Homo sapiens: one gene and its partners. The protein of the gene in region 4 purifies or fractionates together with the protein of the main gene of each other region. This does not show direct contact. Each region holds a gene or a part of one and is shown on either strand. Other genes may lie near its edges.

What was found. Proteins that work in one complex are often made in the same cells at the same time.
Region 1: the proteins of CD8B (region 4) and ERGIC2 purify together in Homo sapiens (affinity purification with mass spectrometry; one large-scale study listed by BioGRID and IntAct). This does not show direct contact.
Region 2: the proteins of CD8B (region 4) and TMED8 purify together in Homo sapiens (affinity purification with mass spectrometry; one large-scale study listed by BioGRID and IntAct). This does not show direct contact.
Region 3: the proteins of CD8B (region 4) and KLRG2 purify together in Homo sapiens (affinity purification with mass spectrometry; one large-scale study listed by BioGRID and IntAct). This does not show direct contact.

The regions. Positions count from the first base shown.
Region 1 is NC_000012.12:29,366,668-29,372,015, forward strand, and holds part of ERGIC2 (endoplasmic reticulum-Golgi intermediate compartment protein 2), read right to left. Parts: intron 5,004-5,348; 5' UTR 4,967-5,003; coding exon 4,861-4,966; intron 3,556-4,860; coding exon 3,447-3,555; intron 1,621-3,446; coding exon 1,574-1,620; intron 281-1,573; coding exon 210-280; intron 1-209. UniProt on the Homo sapiens protein: Possible role in transport between endoplasmic reticulum and Golgi.
Region 2 is NC_000014.9:77,335,807-77,339,937, forward strand, and holds part of TMED8 (protein TMED8), read right to left. Parts: 3' UTR 1-4,131.
Region 3 is NC_000007.14:139,451,669-139,457,016, forward strand, and holds the end of KLRG2 (killer cell lectin-like receptor subfamily G member 2), read right to left. Parts: intron 2,547-5,348; coding exon 2,443-2,546; intron 2,040-2,442; coding exon 1,919-2,039; 3' UTR 1,022-1,918; downstream 1-1,021.
Region 4 is NC_000002.12:86,851,077-86,856,424, reverse strand, and holds part of CD8B (T-cell surface glycoprotein CD8 beta chain isoform 5 precursor), read left to right. Parts: intron 1-3,338; coding exon 3,339-3,428; intron 3,429-5,348. UniProt on the Homo sapiens protein: Integral membrane glycoprotein that plays an essential role in the immune response and serves multiple functions in responses against both external and internal offenses. In T-cells, functions primarily as a coreceptor for MHC class I molecule:peptide complex.

The DNA of each region.
Region 1 (5,348 bases), on a different chromosome or scaffold from region 4:
AATGTTAATAATGGTCACCTCAAGATTTTGGTATATAATATAACTTTTCTGTTTTTCCCCCTAAATTTATTACAAAGAATATGGATTACTTTTGAAATAAAAGAATTATACTAAAAACTATTTCAGACAAAACTAAAAGCAACTATCTGTCTTCAAGCGTACGATTCCTCAACCCGTGTATTTCAAAAAACCATGTGAATCAAACTTACTGGTTCATAAACTAAACCATCTGCAGATGCAACCATTGTTTCTGCTAAATCCAATACATCCGCTCCAACATCTGCATAGAAAAAAGAATTAGAAGTTTTACATTCTATGCTTGGAGGCAAACCATCCCCAATATAAACAAATTAAGCCAACTAACAGAAAACTCACCAAGCAAAAAAAAAAAAAAAACCTCACCAACTATGTAGAATAATTTCCGATATATTTGTCCAAAAGCTAAAACAGTAGCCTTATATAGCTTAGGTGGAGATTATTCCAAAATGTAATAATGTTTTTTCTTACCCAGTAAAAAACTTCTTACCCAATAAAAAAAAAAAGATAATTCAAGATCTCATTTAAAAAGGATAAGCGTCACTGAATTGAAGAGCTTTGCAAATATCGGCAAGAACCTAATCACAAGTACTAAGTGGCTGCTGAACAAAATATTAATTCCAAGAAATATTTTTAGAGATTAAAAGAAATCGTAAAGCTATGCTACAAATCAACAAATAGGAAATTTTATTCGGAAAAGGCTAAAATTTAACAGTATTTAAACATCCAAAATAAGGCAGAATATCATATATTCAGAATTACCACTAACTACAAGTTTAAAAATAAAGTATTTTTTTATCTCTTAAAACCACCAACATAAGGAAAAACATATTGAAAAGAAAGAGATTCAAGGTCGTTCTGAGATAGAATCTCACAGAAAATAACCTCTAATTAATTGGGTAAAATTATTTCATACTTTTAAAAATGTAAAAATTTTCTCTGAGTTCTTGGTCTGTAATTTTTAAGCAGTAACTCATAAAATATTTTTCATGCAAAAGCATTCTTATTTTTGAAAACAGTATTGATTCAAACATTCACTATCTGGCATATTAGCATTTTTCCACTTCTATTAGTATAACCAAGTGAGTCCAGTGACGAAAAAAGAAAAGGGTAACCTATCACCATTAACTTAAAATAACTGGATCTGTATTTTTAAACGCAAGAGTAAACATAAAAGGTGGTAAACTGAAACAGTGACACAAGGATATGCTTGTGAAACATGGGTATAAAAGCTAGTACTCCAAACAAAAAAAGACAGAAAGGATGTACATAAACTAGAATGCTGATTCACAAACATTTCCTCCAACTTTCTTTTAATTATACTAATGTGAAAGTTTTATCTCTTCTCTTTATGGAAAAGAAACTTGAAGAATATAAGCTGAGGAGTAAAACAATTTGTATTATTAAATAATACCACAGTAAAACTTTAAAATATTATAAAGGAAAAATAAAGTACAACCAGTGATTTTTATTTTTGCTTGGCAATTGTTTGAACCATAACCTACATGTGGATTCAGCAAGTTGAAGGTGTACTTACATTGACACTTCATGGCAACAGTAATATCTATATTAATTCTTAATTTGCTGAAAGACAAAATATTAAACATTAGTACCTACCAATTAATTAGCAAAACATGAGAAATATAAATCAACTGACCTATTAAAAACTTGGATTTCAAGCAGAATAAATTATGTCGATTAGAACTTGAATTGCATTTCTCATGGCCAAAACAAAGGCTCTTTAAATTACAAGTTCTATTTTGCCCTTATTCCAAAAGCCTTTCTGACTTCACAGGTTTTTGAACACAGTATCCTTTAATAATGGCAACTCTATAATCAATAACTCTAAGCAACTCAGAAAAAGTCTTAACCTCTTAATCTCTATTTACATAAACTTTTGATAGAATGTTCTTTTAAGAATGTAAAACTCTCAAAATCAAGAATTAGGAATTGTCTTTCTTCTCTGTTTATCAAACACCATATATTAAGCATGATGCTAGATGTTCTACAAATATTATCTCCTTTATTCTATATCATGGAGCTATAAATGGATGGCTTCACAGATTTTCAAGTAAACCACTGGTGTTCACGGTAGTGTAAATACCTGGCTTAAGATCACATCACCATTAAAGTGGCATACTGGAAACTAGGTCTATGTAACTCAGGATAAATGCAACCAAACTACCAAAAGTAAATCACCTGATGCTTAAAATTTTTCATGGCCTTTCATTTTCAAATGATTAGATCAAAGCAATTTTCGAATACCAGAATGAAGCATTGCGAATAATAGACTGGCTATGATCAAATTCAGTCCTGTGCTTTCTATGATAACTTTTTTCTGTGTAATAATTTTCATCTGATTTAAAATAGGAATTACAGATTTTTAGACCTTCATGAAGTCTTAAAGTCATCTAGAGTTCAAACTGTGTTCCAAATAACCCAGGAGTTTAGGCTCAGGAGATAGGAACCAGGAGTAGGCCAAGTAGACAAACTTCTGCATATCCTCACCATGCTTATGTGGCGAACTATGTAATACATAAGACTTCATTTGGAAAAAAATGAAGTATTGCATTGGTGCTGAAAACAACAACAAATTCTTTGAAAACCAATACTATCCTGAATAGTACATTAGAGATGAAGAAACTGAAGTCCAAAAGAAGTCAGTGGTGTGACCTGCCCAAGGTTACACAGCAATTTACAAATGTTGACTAATTTAATTCTCATAAACCTCTTGAGGAAGATACTATAATTGCTGTCTGTACTTTACAAAAAAGGAAACTGAAGCATATACAGGTGCAGATTTAGTAAATTCCCTAAAATTATGTAAATGGCAAACCTGGATTGTAATTGAAAACTAAATGTGTCTTCCTATTTGGTGCAATCTTAATATTATAAACCTATTATCTTCATTCCATTGAAGAAATCCAAATAATACAAACGAATAGATGTAAAGTGTATAATTAAGGTACTATATTTTCAAAAGTTTAAAAGTAATCTTATTTACATAAAGATTTAGCTTAGGTATAATTTATAGACATCAAGTCATAAGGGTATACAATGTATCCTTAGACAACTTATTTTCCAGCTCACACAGATCAGTGAGGTATTTCAACCAGTTTCAAATATTAAACAATTTCCACAATATACATATCTAAGGAAAAATATTCCCCTAACTTTTTGAAACAAAGCATGCTAAATCAAAGAACCTCAGTTTTAGAATTCAACCACTATTTAAATGATTCTAAAAGGTTTCACTTAATGCATGCAATTAATGAGAATTTTTCAGGACTATTTCTTCAGAACTAAAACAAACCAAATCTAGAAGGTTAGACTTTTTCTTTTTTAAAAGGTATGCTCTTTTTAAAACAATTTGAATCTAAAGGTATTCCAAGAAGAAAAAAAATGATTACCTAGAAAAATCCTTGTCTACTTCGTATTCATACTTCATCCATGTATCTTGATATACTGAGAATTCCATTATGGTTAATAAAGCCATAGTTGTAAATGCTATTAGAGAAACTGGGAAATCCAACAACAAAAGAAAAACAGAATTAAAACAATAAAAAAAGCAAAGAATAGGAAACTAATTTAAGTGAGATTAAATTTTCAAAAGAAAAAGCCTAATAATGTAACTTCCATTTGAATGCATACTATAGAAGGTTTTTATTCAAAATGTTTATTATGCATTTTTTCTAATACAGCTCAAAAGTTAAGGTTTAATATATACAAATATGAACATAAACACTTGCATTACTAAGAAAGCATTTTATTTCTCCAATTTTAAGGGCATCTCTCACTAAGTAGAGTTGACAAAATTTGTATTTCTTATATAAAACAGTGTCACAGATAGGATAAATGATGAAAGTAAGCATGCCTTATAGCACAAATTTGAAAACAGTTGCTTCATTATTAAAAATGCATCCATGTCTATAAATATAATTTGTATATAAATGTATATAAATTGGGCTATAAGCCCAATTTAAAACAAACAAAAAGGTAGCCTAATTTCTTAGATCCTGAGAAACCACAATAATCTGTGTGCCAGAAACTCAAATAACATCTCTAAATAGCTAACAAAACTCTCCTCTACTTGGCAATCTCCTAAATATATCACCTCATTCACAGAACTGAGTAAAAGATCTGACAAAAAGAAAATCTATTATATACTAAAGCAAAATACTTAAAATAGATTTTGCAAGAACTTGCACTATTTTCATTAACAAAACTTAATCACAAGTGGATCAGAAATAGTAAGCAACTTATTACCCATTTTACCAAATAAAATGTCAACCTTAAGTGAAATACATTATTTTACTACCTTTTCATAGGGAAAGAAATTATACTGAATATTGTTATAGTCACACATTTTTCTTATATATTTCATTATTTATTTTACTTAACTGATACTTTTATCTGTACCAGGCACTGGGTCTAAGCATTTTATGAAAATATTAATAGTATAGTAACCCCTAGGAGGTAAATACTAGTATGATCCCTATTTCATGGAAGAAACTAAGACAGATAGATTTGAATAACTTCCTCAAGGTCACATATTTAGGAAAGGGCAGCAAAGCAGAAACATTGGTTTAATGTATTAATGTTTTAATAAACACTGCCAAAGGCACAGATGGCACTGTGTTGGAGGCTATAGAGAATATTAATAAGAATTACAGCCAACAGAGTGGCATGAAGACAGACAAGTTACGAAGTTACGGCAGAATTCATTGATAAATTCTTCCTCATGGCTACATTTCTATATGTTGTTGACTGGATCACGCAGAAGTTGTACTTACTACAGAACTTTTAATGTTAACTGATACTCACCTGTACCTCCACTGGCTGAAGTCTCTACATAGCTCTCAGGAACCTTCGGAAAGGCATCCAACTCTTTTACCAAACTTAAAGTTTTTTTCCGATTCAGTCGCCTCATCTTCAGGAAAACCTTCCTCTTCCTTCATATAGTCATGCTAAGGAATAAATAAATTAATGAATAAATGAATCCTTTAAAGAGATAAAAAGGTTTCTTTAAATTTAGGATAACTGACAAATGTCCTTAAAACAACTTAACATTCTCATCCCCCCTTAAAAATAAAAAGCATAGTATTTATCCACACTACTCCTTTCCCCATTCATGCCCTGACAAAAACTACTAATGGAAGGCAATTTAAATACAAAAACACATTATATAGCAAGAAAAAAAGTGAAAAGTAATTCAATCACATGAATAATGTCTAAATATAAAAATTAAGATAATGTTTTCTATTAAATTGAAAACTATATAAAAATAATACACTTCCAATAATGAATGACAG
Region 2 (4,131 bases), on a different chromosome or scaffold from region 4:
GAAATAATTTAGCTTGGTTAAATGAAAGCTACTTCACTTACAGGATAATCTCAGGAGACATGAGTGGAGTTTTTCATATGGAATTTCTTAGTAAAATGTACTGTTTAGGATATGAGAGACGGAATTAAGATAATGTTTTCCAGATGATTCTTGGCCTGATCCTAAGAATCAACAATAACAATCAATAGCAAGGAACATTACACATTCAACCCTGAGTGATGAAGAGAGTTCAGGAAGAGAGCCCCTTAAACTCTGAATTAAGGGCTCTTTGGTAATATCATATACTATAATATTTCAAACCAAAACTTCAGAAGGGTTCATGATCCTATTTCAGGACTTTAGAAAATATACTTTGTCCTCTGGAAGCAATTTCACATATATTATTTTGCCCCCAGATAAGCCACAACTACCTGCTTAAATTTTTTTTTAAACTATGGAATTAAATAAACATGCATCTCTAGATTTCTAGGGCAACTTTTCATCATATCTTTGAAGAGTCATGACATTAACTCTGGTCCACATACCTGGGGCCTAAAAAAATCAGGTACATATAATAGGAATCACATCATGAGCCTAATTTCAAAGCCAGTGTCTTGCCTTTGGACTGTGTGTGTGAGGCATGCCTATTTGTAAATGAGCTCCACTATCATTGGTTTTAGGCAATAGTGTTTTCTTAGCTTAGAAATTTCTTACCTTAAGAATTCAAACAGGAGGGGCTTTGTTTAGCCTTCTTGGTTTAGGCAGGGACAATGCAACACTTGAGAGGCAGCAGTGATTTCTGAGCAAAATTCTAAGATATATTCGATAGGTTTGCTCTCCCCTCCCCCCATACTCCTACCCTTTGCCCCCTAATTTTATTTTGTTTTCCCTCGTTGTGATCAATTTTAAAAGACAGTTCTCAAGCAGCACAAAACGGTGTAACTTATGCCCCTCCCTTATGCTCCACTAAAACAAGTCTCTTATGTAAATATTAGGGTCACTCAATTCCACACCTTAGAACCACTGGGGTTAAAAGGCAACCTTCTGCAGATAAGTGGTCTTAACAAACAAATATAAAAGCAGACTTTAGAGTCTGGGTTTCAACTAATTCTCTCAAAGAGGGACTGAGCAGGACTCATAAACATAAACTCATATTCCCTACAGATTAAGACTTTTTATGATAATACCTAATTCTACTGCTTAATATAAGACAGCGTTCAGATTTCACTCTTCCATATACATATTATAATGGGACAATATACACTTTTTTAAAAGTCTGAGTTTTTCTTCCCAAAATAACAAAAATATTTTTTAAAGTGCATGTATCAATTCATTAAGAAAAAAATAACTAAGAATGGTCTAATTCCAAATTGCTACCTACTTCCATGATAAAGCTACCTGTTATCTAAGGATTGAGTTTTAATATCAGAGTCCTGAGGACATGTCATCAAGCAACAGAGGTTAGCATAAAGCCCTTCCGGAGCAGCTTCACAATCACTCTTGTACTGACATGCCAGTTAGTAAGGAAAACAGCAGAGATCATGGCCTGAGGGAAGGGGAAAATACAGCACAGATGTATTTTCTTGAAAGATGGAGACCAAGAAACAATTTTTTTTTTTTTGAGACGGAATCTTGCTCTGTTGCCCAGTCTGGAGTGCAGTGGCATGATCTCGGCTCGCTGCAACCTCTGCCTCCTGGGCTCAAGAAATTCTCCCTGCTTCTGCCTCCAGAGTAGCTGGGATTACAGATGCCCGCCACCACGCCCAGCTAATTTTTTGTATTTTTAGTAGCGACGGAGTTTCACTATGTTGGCCAGGCTGGTCTCGAACTCCTGGCCTAAGGTGGTCTGCCCACCTTGGCCTCCCAAAGTGCTGGGATTACAGGCGTGGGCCACGGCGCCTGGCCTCCAAGAAACATTTTTATGAAGACCACCTCCTGGGTAACCCATGTTGAATGAAACAGGTCTGCTAAAAATCAGGGGCTCTCCAACAGAGCCGATATGCAGGGGACATTCTCAGCATTCTCTAATTGGACACTTGTCAAAAGGAACAGAATGTTAGAATCATCTTTGCCTAGGAATTGGTAGTTTAAAATTTTTACATTTATGCGGGGAGTGTGTGTATACATATATATACAGCAAACCAAAAATAAATTCTAAATCCCCCAACCGGCTGAATGGACCCCTGTCTTGGCCCAGGGGATCTCAAAGGAACCTGAAAAACTAGTCCATGATGGGAAGACAGGGTGCCTCATATTATGGTCAGATTACAGGGTGCCTCATATTACCCTCTTCCCTTTGGAATTTAAATACAACTGACCAGCATTAACATTAAAACAGAGATCTTAAGACTAACCAAACAGACCCTTTGTGGCAATAAAATACCAAATCCCAACCTGACTCTGGTATAGCATCACATGACAGCAGGCCCCAAAGGAAATTTACCCCCCAATATATTTATTTGACGTATTTTGAAATGGCCCTACAAAGCTGTCTCTTGTGGGGGAAACTGCATTCTGTAGAGAATCTCCTTCTCTTATTAGGTCTTTTCTGGAGAGTCTGACACCTTTTAAGGCCTAAAAAGAAAAATTCATCATCTGTTCTCTCTGAAGCCTGCTACCTGGAGGCTTCATCTACATGACTTAAGCCAAGCCTCCCTTACTTTAACTTAAGCTGACTTCATCTTTTCAGGTAAAGTTTAACTCTCTCAACCAACTGCCAGTCAGGAACTCTTTGATCTACCTCTGACCTGGAAACCCCCATCTTCAAGATGTCCTGCCTTTCCAGGCCAAACCAGTGTATACCTTACATGTATTGATTTATGGCTTTGCCTGGACCTTCTGTCTCCCTCAAATGTATAAAACTGTAACCCGACTACCTCGGGCACATGTTCTAAGAACCTCCTGAGGCCCCATCATGGGCTCTGAACCTTGGCAAAATAAACCTCTAAATGTATTGAGACCTGTCTCAGATACTTTTTGGTTTACAATATATTTATATTTCTTTTAAGCTGTTTGCTGAAATTTTTTCACAATAAAACACTGGGGGAAAAGAAATCAATACTTTAAATATGTCTTCCTTTCTAAAAGGCCCATCTCTCAACAAAGTGGCAAAACTAAAACTAAAGAAATTTAAGAACTCAGTCACTATAGAGAATTCCAATCTCTCTCCTACTATGAAGCACTTTCTTTCAATTGTTTGTTACTATTTGTTTGTGCTCTAGAGAACAGGGTGAGGATCAAAGCAAACGGTTTTCATTTCATTGTTTGGGTCTATAAATTTGGACTGGGAGGGGCTGAGGAAATGACTGTCTCTTAGAATTTGCTGGGCTGTGGGTTCTCAGTAATTACCTGTGCTTCAGTAAGTAGTATCTTGCCCCTAAAGTTCAATTATTTCAGAAATGTAACATGAAAATAGTGAATTAGACAGTGAAAATATCTTCTTTTAGCTATTTTGTGCTAATGGAACACAGAAACCCTGACAGTTGGTGAAAAACCAGTATGAATGAAATGTAACCATGCCCAGGACTTCAAAAGTGACCAGACCCTAAGAGGCACACAGAGGTGAGGGGAACAAGTCCCTTAGGCTTCCCTGATGCAACAGAACTAGGATTCCAAAGAAAATAAGCAGAGAATCTCATGGTGAAAATAAATAATAACAAGTGTTATCCTTGGGAGCTTGCTGTGTATGGCCTGACTGTTTCAATTTGAGAGAAAGGCAGAAGTTAATAATAAACAGGAAAAATAAGCAAGGCTTTAGCTGACTAGAAAACAGCTCAGTAGAAAATTATTTTACAAAGATTATATTCAGTTAGCTAAGGCATGATTCAACTTCAATGATGCAAGAGCGGTCACTCAGCTATCCAATGGGATGACACACAGCAAATCAGCTCTTCACTGCCTCAACAGACAGTCACTAAAATAATTTCTTTAAAGGTATATAAATGTTGGCCAGTGTAATCCTCTACAAAACACATTTGCAAATATAAAATAATGGAGGTATGATGCTGCTCAGAGAATGGGAATGCTCTGGCAGTCCCCAACATCCTATCCCACTTGGGGCTTTGCTCCGAGGGGAAGAGCAGGTGCAGGATATATTGCCCTTTGATGTGATGTAGATGCTACTAGGGACCCACTGGGAAGAGTCCCGTTCCT
Region 3 (5,348 bases), on a different chromosome or scaffold from region 4:
AATGCGGCCTTTGGAGTCAGATAGCAAGTGGGTTTCATTCTAGACCTTCCACTTTCTAGCTGGGTAACACTGAGTACAACACTTCCCTTCTCTAAAAGGTACTGAGAAGGCTAGATAAGGTTCTGTATACTCATAACCTACAGATGTGTCATTTCTCCAGGCACAGATCCTGGGAACACATGGCAGGGGATGGGGGCGGTAACATACACAGCTTCCTGCCCACATAGGATGTATTTTGATTGGCGCCTGCCCCACGTGAGCCACCCATTTCACATCCAGCCAGGGAATTTCCATGTCCTTTTTTTTTTTTTTTTTTTTGAGACAGAGTCTTGCACTGTCACCCGGGCTGCAGTGCAGTGGCACAATCTCGGCTCACTGCAACCTCCGCCTCCTGGGTTCAAGCAATTCTCCTGCCCCAGCCTCCCGAGTAGCTAGAATTACAGGCACCCACCACCACGCCCAGCTATTTTTTTGTGTTTTTAGTAGAGACAGGGTTTCACCATGTTGGCCAGGCTGGCAGGCTGGTCTCGAACTCCTGACCTTGTGATTCGCCCACCTCGGCCTCCCAAAATGCTGGGATTACAGGCATGAGCCACCGTGCCCGGCCTCCATTTCCCTTTTTGTTATTACTTTCAGGAGTGTGAGAAGGCAGGGATAGCATTAGGAGAAATTTCTAATGTAGATGACAAGTTGATGGGTGCAGCAAACCACCATGGCATGTGTATACCTATGTAACAAACCTGCACGTTCTGCACATGTACCCCAGAACTTAAAGTATAATAATACTAATGAAAAATACAGTGTGAGAAATTTCTCCCATCTAGGACTCTCCATCCCATTCTCCCAGACGGCCCATTACTGGTTCAAACGCACCAATAAGGATTTCTGTTTGGGAGGGATCTGGGTGCATGGTCTGACTTTTGAGGGAAGGCTGGCTTGCAAGGGCCAGTTGAGTGCGTGCTCAGCACCAAGCCAACACGCAGGCCCAGGCTCCTGCTGTTTGGAGGTCTAGCTGGACTCAAGGAACTACACAACTCTGTCAGCCACATCCTCCAGCCTGAAGGTCTTCACTGCACCCCAGCATGGAGACATCTTCAGGTTGGTCGTCTCTGCAGCTGTGGGTAGAAGAGCTGCCTGGAACGTGCCTGCATTTCTCTGATTTCCTTTTTCACTCAGACTCCTCAGCTTCCACCTACCAAGCTGGGGTGCTCTCCTGGCTTCTCCTGCCAGGTGGCCCTGTCCTCTCTGCCTTGTCTCACCCTTGGGCATCAGCGTGCCAGGGGCTGGCCAGCCCACATGCGGGATCTCCACCCAGAACCTTCCTGTCTGCCAACCCTTTGCCAACTCTCAGGGTGGGGAAGGAAAACCTTGCTCTCCCCTCTTTCCAGGGCTGACCGCTCCTTTTCCTTGGTTAATTTTCCAGAGGCTGCCGGTAGGCTGTGTCCGATGTACACCCAGCTGCCTGAAGTAGAATTCACAGCAATGACGTTATCCCTGCCAAGTCCCACTGCCACTGAACAACGGCAGACTCATTTCCATGAGCCGGAATGAGAACCCAGATTGGAATCCGCTGTGGTTGTTAACCCTGTCTTTTTCCTCTAGGGGGAAATTGTCATTTTAATGAAACCAAGGCACAGAAATGCTAAACAACCATCCCAATGTCATCAAACCGATCATCCACAGAAGCTGGAGACTAATATTGGCACTCAGGCCTGAGGCCATAGAAAATCTCCTTTCCCTCGGATGCATCTTCCTGGGTTGAAGTCCAGCTCCTAGGCTCGCTCATGTGGCCCCCTTGAGCAGAGCATGAAGACCTGGATAACTGGGTCCAGGAAGAGGCTGCCCAAGCTCTCAACTGGCCTCCCCTGTAGGGGGTGCTGCATCTGCCTGGCAGGCTGAGGACCAGGCAGAGCCCAGATCACTGGGTCCCCTTGGCACAGACCCAGGGTCTTGGAGTGCTGCAGTTTGCAGCCACCAGCGTGCCTTCCTCCAGGGCCCCACAGTTGATATCCAGATTGTCCTCGCCGTCCTCAGGGAGTCTGGGAAAGGATGGGAGGGGAAAGAGGAGAGGTGTTTAGGGTGCCGGGGCCTTGCTTCCCAGCCAGACCCTCCAGCGTGTGTGCCTGTCACCTCTACCGGCCTGGGCACTGAGTGAGTCACTGCACTGGTCAGCCACGTGGCACTGGATGAATCCCCAAACCTCCCTGGGCAGCTGACCCCGCATCTGTAAAATGGGGGTGACAACCCTGCTTGGGTGAACGTGCTGGGAACCCAAATAAAGAGTGAAGCGACAGGGTCTAATCAGGCACCAGGCCGCGAGCATGGGCGTGGGCTGCTTTCCAAGTGGCATTCCAGGCTAGGGGAGCAGCAAGGAGGTGGAGTCTGGGGAGAAATGGAGGATCCAGAACAGCAGAGGAGGGAGAAAAGCCCGTGGTCACTCACAGCTGGGGCGGGAGTGGGGCCTCGTCGATCCAGTGCCAGCCCTGGGGGCCTCGCCAGGCCCCCACCCAGGAGTGCCTGGAGACTGGGTATCTGCCCAGGAAGTCCTGAGGGAGAAAAGTAAGCTGGTCACTCCCCTGGACACTGGCGTGGCTTGCCTGGGGCGTACGGATTCCCTGGGGCTTCCACAGGATCCCAGCTGGCCAATCCAGAAGGATCTGCTCAAGCCAGCACTTGCAGAACAAAAAAACCTTGAAAGCTGGATTGGATGCCTGCTGGGTGCCAGGTTCTGTGCTCAGGGCTGGGGGCCAAAATGAGGGTGACCCCGTCTCAGCCAAAGGGATGTGAACGCCAAACACCACTAAGTGATGCTCAGTGGGCATTGAGTGGGCAAAGAAACAAGGAAGCTCAGAAAGCGAGGGAGGTGGTCAGGCACGGTGGCTCATGCCTGTAATCCCAGCACATTGGGAGGCCGAGGCTGGCAGATTACCTGAGGCCAGGAGTTCGAGACCGGCCTGTCCAACATAGTGAAACCCCGTTTCTATTAAAAAAAAAAAAATTAGCTGGGCATGGTGGCGGGCGCCTGTAATCCCAGCTACTTGGGAGGCTGAAACAGGAGAATCGCTTGAGCCCAGGAGACAGAGGTTGCAGTAAGCCGAGATTGCGCCACTGCATTCCAGCCTGGGCTGACAAGAGGGAAATTCTATCTCAAAATAATAATAATAATAATAATAATAATAATAATAATAATAATAATAACACACGCAGATGTGCAGGAACAACAAAAACCAAAGTAAGTGTGCTGGAGAGGTACTAGAGGAGACTTTTTTCTTTTAAATATTTGCCCTCAATGTCACACTATTTTTAACAATGAATTAAAGCAAAAAAGACAATGTTTTAAAGTATATATTTAAGATTTTTTTTTTTTTGAGATGGAGCCTTGCTCTGTCACCCAGGCTGGAGTGCAGTGGCACGATCCTGGCTCACTGCAGCCTCCGCCTCTCAGGTTCAACCGATTCTCCCGCCTCAGCCTCCTGAGAGGCTGGAACTACAGGCATGCACCACCACACCCAGGTAATTTTCGTATTTTTAGTAGGGAAGGGTTTTGCCGTGTTGGCCTAGGCTGGTCTTGAGCTCCTGGCCTCAAGTGATCTGTCCATTTTAGCCTCCCAAAGTGTAGAATTAGTGGTGTGAGCCACTGTACCCGGCCAAGATTTTTTTTTTTTTTTTTTGAGACAGAGTCTCGCTCTGTTGCCCAGGCTGGAGTGCAGTGGCGCGATCTCGGCTCACTGCAAGCTCTGTCTCCTGGGTTCACGCCATTCTCCTGCCTCAGCCTCCCGAGTAGCTGGGACTACAGGCACCCGCCACCATGCCTGGCTAATTTTTTGTATTTTTAGTAGAGATGGGGTTTCACCGTGTTAGCCAAGATGGTCTCGATCTCCTGACCTCGTGATCCGCCTGCCTCGGCCTCTCAAAGTGCTGGGATTACAGGCGTGAGCCACCGCGCCCGGCCAAGATTTTTTAACTTGGAAAAAAAAGTTTAAATCTTTTAAGTCCCAGGGTGGGGACGTGGTGGAGGGGGCAGTGATGCCGGCACGGCCCGCATCAGCTTGTTCTTTCTGAAATGTCGTTTGGTGCTATGTGACAAGAGCAGCACCACCACTCCTGCTCAAATGGGTGATTTCACTGAGAAATAAATCCAAGAATATAAAGGGAAAAAAATGAACTTATCTAAAGATAACACGGTGCTATTTGTGAAGAAAAACTGGAAACTCCCCAAACGCTCAGCAATCAAGAAATAACAAGGTAAATTATAGGATGTCAACATGATGGAAAATTATAGTGCTATTAAAAATGACAAGTGTATAGAAAATGTCATTATGCAGGAAAATGTAAATATGAAATCATGCCATGTAAAAAAAAAAAGACTACACTAGCAAGTACATATCACTCACAACAATGTCAAGAAGCACATATTCACACTGAGGCAGGTTAGGAGCAGAGCGGTATAAATGAATTTCGCATATGCTCAGTTCTTCTTCCCTAAGAAAATGGTTTAAGTCAACAAAGACAAGCCCTGGGAATTAGAGTGATGATTGTCCTGTTGCTGCCACCTCCTCCATCCTTCAGAACTGATTTAAAGGTGGCTTTTTTAACGGACACTGGGCTGACCCTCTCCAAGGTGAAATAGGTGCTCCTCCCTCCCCTTGGTTTCCACAACTTTCACAGAATAGAGCTGTCTCTTTTTTATTTTTATTTTTTTAATTTTTATTTTTGAGACGGAGTCTTGCTCAGCCACCTAGGCTGGAGTGCAGTGGCACAATCTCGGCTTACTGCAACCACCGTCTCCCGTGTTCAAGGAATTCTCCTGTCTCAGCCTCCCAAGTAGCTGGGATTACAGGCACCTGCCATGACGCCCAATTTAGTAGAGATGGGGTTTCACCATGTTGGCCAGGCTGGTCTTGAACTCCTGACCTCAGATGATTCACCCACCTCGGCCTCCCAAAGTGCTAGGATTACAGGTATAAGCCACTGCACCCAGCCTCTCTTTTTTATTTTTTAAGAGACAGGATCTCACTACGTTGTCCAGGCTGGCCTTGAACCTCTGGGCTCAAGCGATGCTCCCACCTCAGCCTCCGAAGTAGCTGGGACTGCTGGTGCGTGCCACCACTCATGTGCTGCCTTCTAATGGCTTGCCTCCTTGTCACTTTCCTGTATTAGTTGGTGAACCTGGTGCGGGCCAGGAGCTTGTCTTACTCAGCATCGCACTATGATAACCCAGTACACAGTAGGTCAACTCAGTGAAACTGCCTCCCCGCGCTCACTGCCAAAAATCAGCAGAGCCACAGTGAGACCAGGCCATCAGGCCACTGTGTATCCCAGAAGTGTCACGGAAAACCCATCTTCTG
Region 4 (5,348 bases):
TTTCGTATTGAAAAATGGACTTTGGGAGTTTGGGGTTTGGGGTTTGGGGTTTGGCTTTAGCTTATTGTTTTTGTCTCTGTAAGCCCCACACCTTTCCACTCATGAGATTTCAGAGTCTGAGAAGGTGGAGGGTACAATAAACACAGCTAGTTTCCAGAGCTTCCCACCGCCTCCATCCCAACCGCACTCACTCCTGACTTCCGTGTTTCCAAACCCCAAACCCCTCCCAGCACTATAGGAATGTCAATGCCTCTCTCCAGCTCTGGCTTGCAGCCAAACCTGCTTCTCCCCAGGGCTTGCAACCAGACCTTCTTCGGAGCCGAACCCCACCTTCTCACCCAAGAAAGGCCTTTTAGAGGACAAAGCTGGGATGGTTGAGAAAGTGTTTGGGGAAAGACAGGGCCTTTTTCAGGCCCTTAAGTATATCATGGGCTCGAAGTTTTATTCCTTTTAAGAACAGAGAGGGAGAGATTAAACTGGGTGCTCAGGAGGAATCCAGGGGGACCTGGCTCTAGGCAAGAAGAATTTAAAACAGAACAGTCCCCCAACCTGAGTCTCCCACTAGACCCAGGCGGCGGTGCCCAGCCAAGGCACTGAGGGCCCAAAGAGTTGGCTCCCCTCTGGGCTCACCACTGACCATCTGAAAGACGTCCCTGCTTCCTCGGGTAGAAAATAAGTCAAACAGAACTACTTCTAGGGCCATGAGGATTGAAGGAGGCAACACTCCCAGGAGAGGGCCAGGCTCGTTGCACGCTCTCCGACCCTGCTGATGACAGTTTCCTCTTACAATAGTTGCCCTCAGCACTATGATGACCCAGGGCCTTGGGTGGACCTAAAGTGTTCAACTTTTGTCAGAAAATCTTTGCACGTGAGGTAGTGTGGCAGAACGAGAAGCACAGGTTCTAGAATCAAGGTCTTTTGGTGCAGATACTGGCTCTGCAGCCAGTGGCTGTCTAACTTTGGACACATTATTTCAGCTCTCTGAGCCTAGGCTTCCTCCTGGATAAAATGGGGACAACAGTGCCTGCCCCAAAAGTTGTTGTGTCCAGTAAACTTATGCTGAAAGGCTCAGCACTGCTCCCCACACATGGTTGGAGCTTAGTGCACTTTCATCCTAGTTGCTTCTTCCCATCAATGTCTTGAAGCAGACAAACAGATCGTGTTCTCTCCGCTTTCCAGAGGAGGCTCAGAGAGGTGAGGGGTTAAAATGTCTACTTTTATATAGAAGATGCCAGCCCAAAAATGACTGATCTGTGGGCTTCCCCTGCCTGTTCCCCCTTACAACCCCCCAAAACCTTTTTTTTTTTTGAGACGGAGTCACTGTCACCCAGGCTGGAGTTTAGTGGCAGGATCTTGGCTGACTGCAACCTCTGCCTCACAGGTTCAAACGACTCTGCTGCCTCAGCCTCCTGAGTAGCTGGGATTACAGGCACGTGCCACCACGCCCAACTAATTTTTGTATTTTTAGTAGGCACAGGGTTTTGCCATGTTGGCCAGGCTGGTCTTGGACTCCTGACCTCAGGTGATCTGCCTGCCTCGGCCTCCCAAAGTGCTGGGATTACAGGCGTGAGTCACCGCGCCCAGCCTTAATATTTCTTTTCTTTTCTTTTTTTTTTTTCTGTCCCCCTGACTCTAGAGTTTAGGTTCATGGTGTCTCCTTACTCCCTCTCCTACCATTTTGGAGAAAATCAGTGCAGAGAGATCTGTTTCCTTAACCCACAAAGGCAAGGGTTGGACTCTGTGGCCAGCAGTGCCCCCTTCATCCCCAGTAGGCATCAGAGCCACAGCTGTCTTCCTTTGCTCTGGGTGCTGGCCCACTGCCCCTCCCAACACTTCAGCAGGGGTCACTGGGTAAAAATGAAGGAGAGGGGTGACCCATCCAGGAGTCAGGACAGGGGTTTGGGGTCCCAACACAGCACTCACCACTTGGGGCTGCAGGGGCCAGCTCCCCTCATCTCTGGCGTTCACCTTTGAAATTAAAGTTTGAGACTGAACTTCCCTTAGCTCTGGTATTATATATATATTTTAGGGCCATCTGAGAAGGAAAACCAATCCCCAAATATGACACCTGTGTGGTACTCTACATGCAGAAAAGGGCACCCCCTCCTTCCATGAGCTTCCTCCATGTGCTTAGGGAATGCCGAGTTGGGCGGAGGGGCTCGTTGTGCCAAAGGCTGGGCGATCCAGCCCTGGGGCTCAAGGTCTTCAGCCAGGTGGAGCCACATCTACTGAAACTTTTTTTGGACACACTGTCCCTTTCATTCTCAGATAATCCCAAGAAGGAGGTGGCAGTTATCATTATTTCAGCAGATAAGGAAATCAAGGCACAGAAAAATGCTATGACTTGTCCCAAGTCACACAGCGGTTAATCAGGGGTGTAGGTCGGCCGGGTGCGGTGGCTCGTACCTGTAATACTAGCACTTTTGGAGGCCGAGGTGAGTGGATTACCTGAGATCAGGAGTTCAAGACCAGCCTGGCCAACATGGTGAAACCCCGTCTCTACTAAAAATACAAAAAATTAGACGAATGCAGTGGCACGACGAATGCAGTGGCACGACGAATGCAGTGGTACGTGCCTGTAATCCCAGCTACTCTGGAGGCTGAGGCAGGATAATTGCTTGAACCTGGGAGGCAAAGGTTGCAGTGAGCCGAGATCGTGCCACTGCCCTCCAGCCTGGGCTACAGAGCGAGACTTTGTCTCAAAAAATAAATAAATAAATAAATAAATAAAAATAAATAAATCAGAGGTGTAGGCTCTGCTCAGTTCTGTGTGGCTCCAGAGCCTTCCTCTCTCCAGGACACCAAGCTGAACCCCATCTCTAGGCCCTCACCCCTTTCCCAACATCTGAGAATTCAGAAAGCAGATCAAACATTCTATTGCTCTGTGACCTTCAAGCCCTGTAGCAGCCTGGGGAACAGTCATAAGGACTTCAGTACTTGGATGTAAGACAAATTTTGTTCATTTGTTCATTTATTTGCTCTTGAGACAGGGTCTTGCTCTGTCGTCCAGGCCAGAGTGCAGTTGCATGATCATGGCTCACTTCAGCCTTGACTTCCCAAGCTCAGGTGATCCTCTCACCTCAGCCTCCTGGGTAGCTGGGACTGTAGGCATATGCCACCACGCCTGGCTAAACTTTTTATTTTTTGTAGAGAGGGGGTTTCACCATGTTGCCCAGGCTGGTCTCAACCTCCTGAGCTCAAATGATCTCCTGCCTTGGCCTCCGGAAGTGTTGGGATTCCAGGCATGAGCCACCGCACCCGCCATAAGACAAAGTTTTGTCTTTGAGTCCACGTGGTGTTCACTTGGCTAAGATATGTGTCTTGCTTTCTTTCTGTAGTTGATTTCCTTCCCACCACTGCCCAGCCCACCAAGAAGTCCACCCTCAAGAAGAGAGTGTGCCGGTTACCCAGGCCAGAGACCCAGAAGGGTGAGTTCCCTATCCCTCTGCACCCTCAGAAACAAGGCAGACATCCCCTTGCCCTCCCTCCCTCCCCTCCTTCCTTCCCCAGGCACTTTCCAAGTGTCAACTCTAGAGCCTATCTCCCCGGCCTAAGCTAGGGTCAGAAAGGATGCTGAGTGTGCCAGCAACTCACAGTCTCGTGGGAGACAGACTCATAAATTGTTACTGGACAAAGCTTAATGGAGGAGATCTCCACCCACACCCCTGCACACAAATGTCCATAGCTTCATTATTCATACTAGCCAAAAGCAGAAACTACCCAAACATCCACCAGCTAATGAGCTGATTAACAAAATGTGGCTTATTTATTATCGTGGAATATTGTTTGGCCATAATAAAGAATAAAATGAAAGGAGCCAGTCACAAAAATCCATATACTATATGATTCCATGATTATGGAATATCCAGCATATGATCCTCTGTAGAGACAGAATGTAGATTGGTTGCTGCCTAAGGCTGGGGGCTTGGGAAAGAAATGGGGAGTGATTCCTAATGGGTATAAGGTTTCTTTTTAGGGGAATTTAAATGTTCTGAAATTACATTATGATAATGGTTGCACAACTCCATGAATACACTAAAAACCATGACATTGTACACTTTAAACAAGGGGACTTTATACGTAAATTATAACTCAATAAAGCTGTTAACAAACAAAAAATCCACTCAAAGGACCAGCACTTTAAACTTTTCCAGTTTTGGCCAGATGTGGTGGCTCACACCTGTAATCCCAGCACTTTGGGAGGCCCAGATGGGTGGATCGCCTTGAGCTCAGGAGTTAGAGACCAGCCTGGGCAACACGGTGAAACTCTGTCTCTACGAAAATGTAAAAAAATTAGCTGGGCGTGGTGGCACATGCCTGTAGTCCCAGCTACTCAGGAGGCTGAGGTGGATGCCTTGAGCCTGGGAGGTGGAGATTGAAGTGAGCTGAGATCCTGCCACTGCACTCCAGCCTGGGTGATAGAGCCAGACCCTGTCTCAAAAAAAAGTTTCCAGTTTTAATACCTAACAGAGGACCTAATACACAGTATGTGCTAGTTCATGAATACATGTTTGTTTGCAAATGAACACATTTGCTTCTCTATGCTACACCAGACACCTCAGCTGGAGTGTATGCCACATACACACACACACAGACACACATGCCCATGCACACGTTTTCCTTAAACCCATCAGCCCAAACGTGTTTCTGGAAAAATACTGACCTCAGCCCAGCAAAAGTCACTGGTGACAAACAGAAAGTGCCATCTGCTGCTACCCAGAAAACAAACCACAAGCAGCCCCTGGAGCACTGCCTCGCACTGCTCAGTTTGCTTTGTCTTAAATATTTTAAGCACCAGAAATTATTGAGGACGGCACTGAATAGGATCTGGGAGACCAGGGTGGGAAGCTGCCGTCACATGAGGTCACAGTAAAAAGAAAATCAGAACCAATGTACAGAAGAGTAAAGTCTTAAGGAGCTTAAGAGTAACCTTATTTTATAAAGTCCCATGCCCTGACCCCTTCACCTAAACGATTTCAGGCAGACTACCATAAAAAGGATATAAAAGGCAAATACAATAGAGCCACTAAGATGAGGGCGCAAGAACCGGTTGTGTGCTACGGCTGTGGAGAACCCGGCAACATCAGTTTAAACAAAGGGAAGACCCCAAGTTGTATGGCACCCCAACCCCAGTGATAGAAAGAAACAACCTGCCACCAAAAGAAGAAACCTTCATCCTAGCACTAAATTCGAGAAGCAATCTGCCCATTCATCTTCATGTAAGGACAGCTGAATGACGGCAAACTCAGTCATACTTTTATAAATGATGGCAAAAACAAAGGTCTTCAGATTTCTTGCATAATTTCTTTTCTTTCTTTCTTTTTTTTTTTTTTTGAAATGGAGTCTCA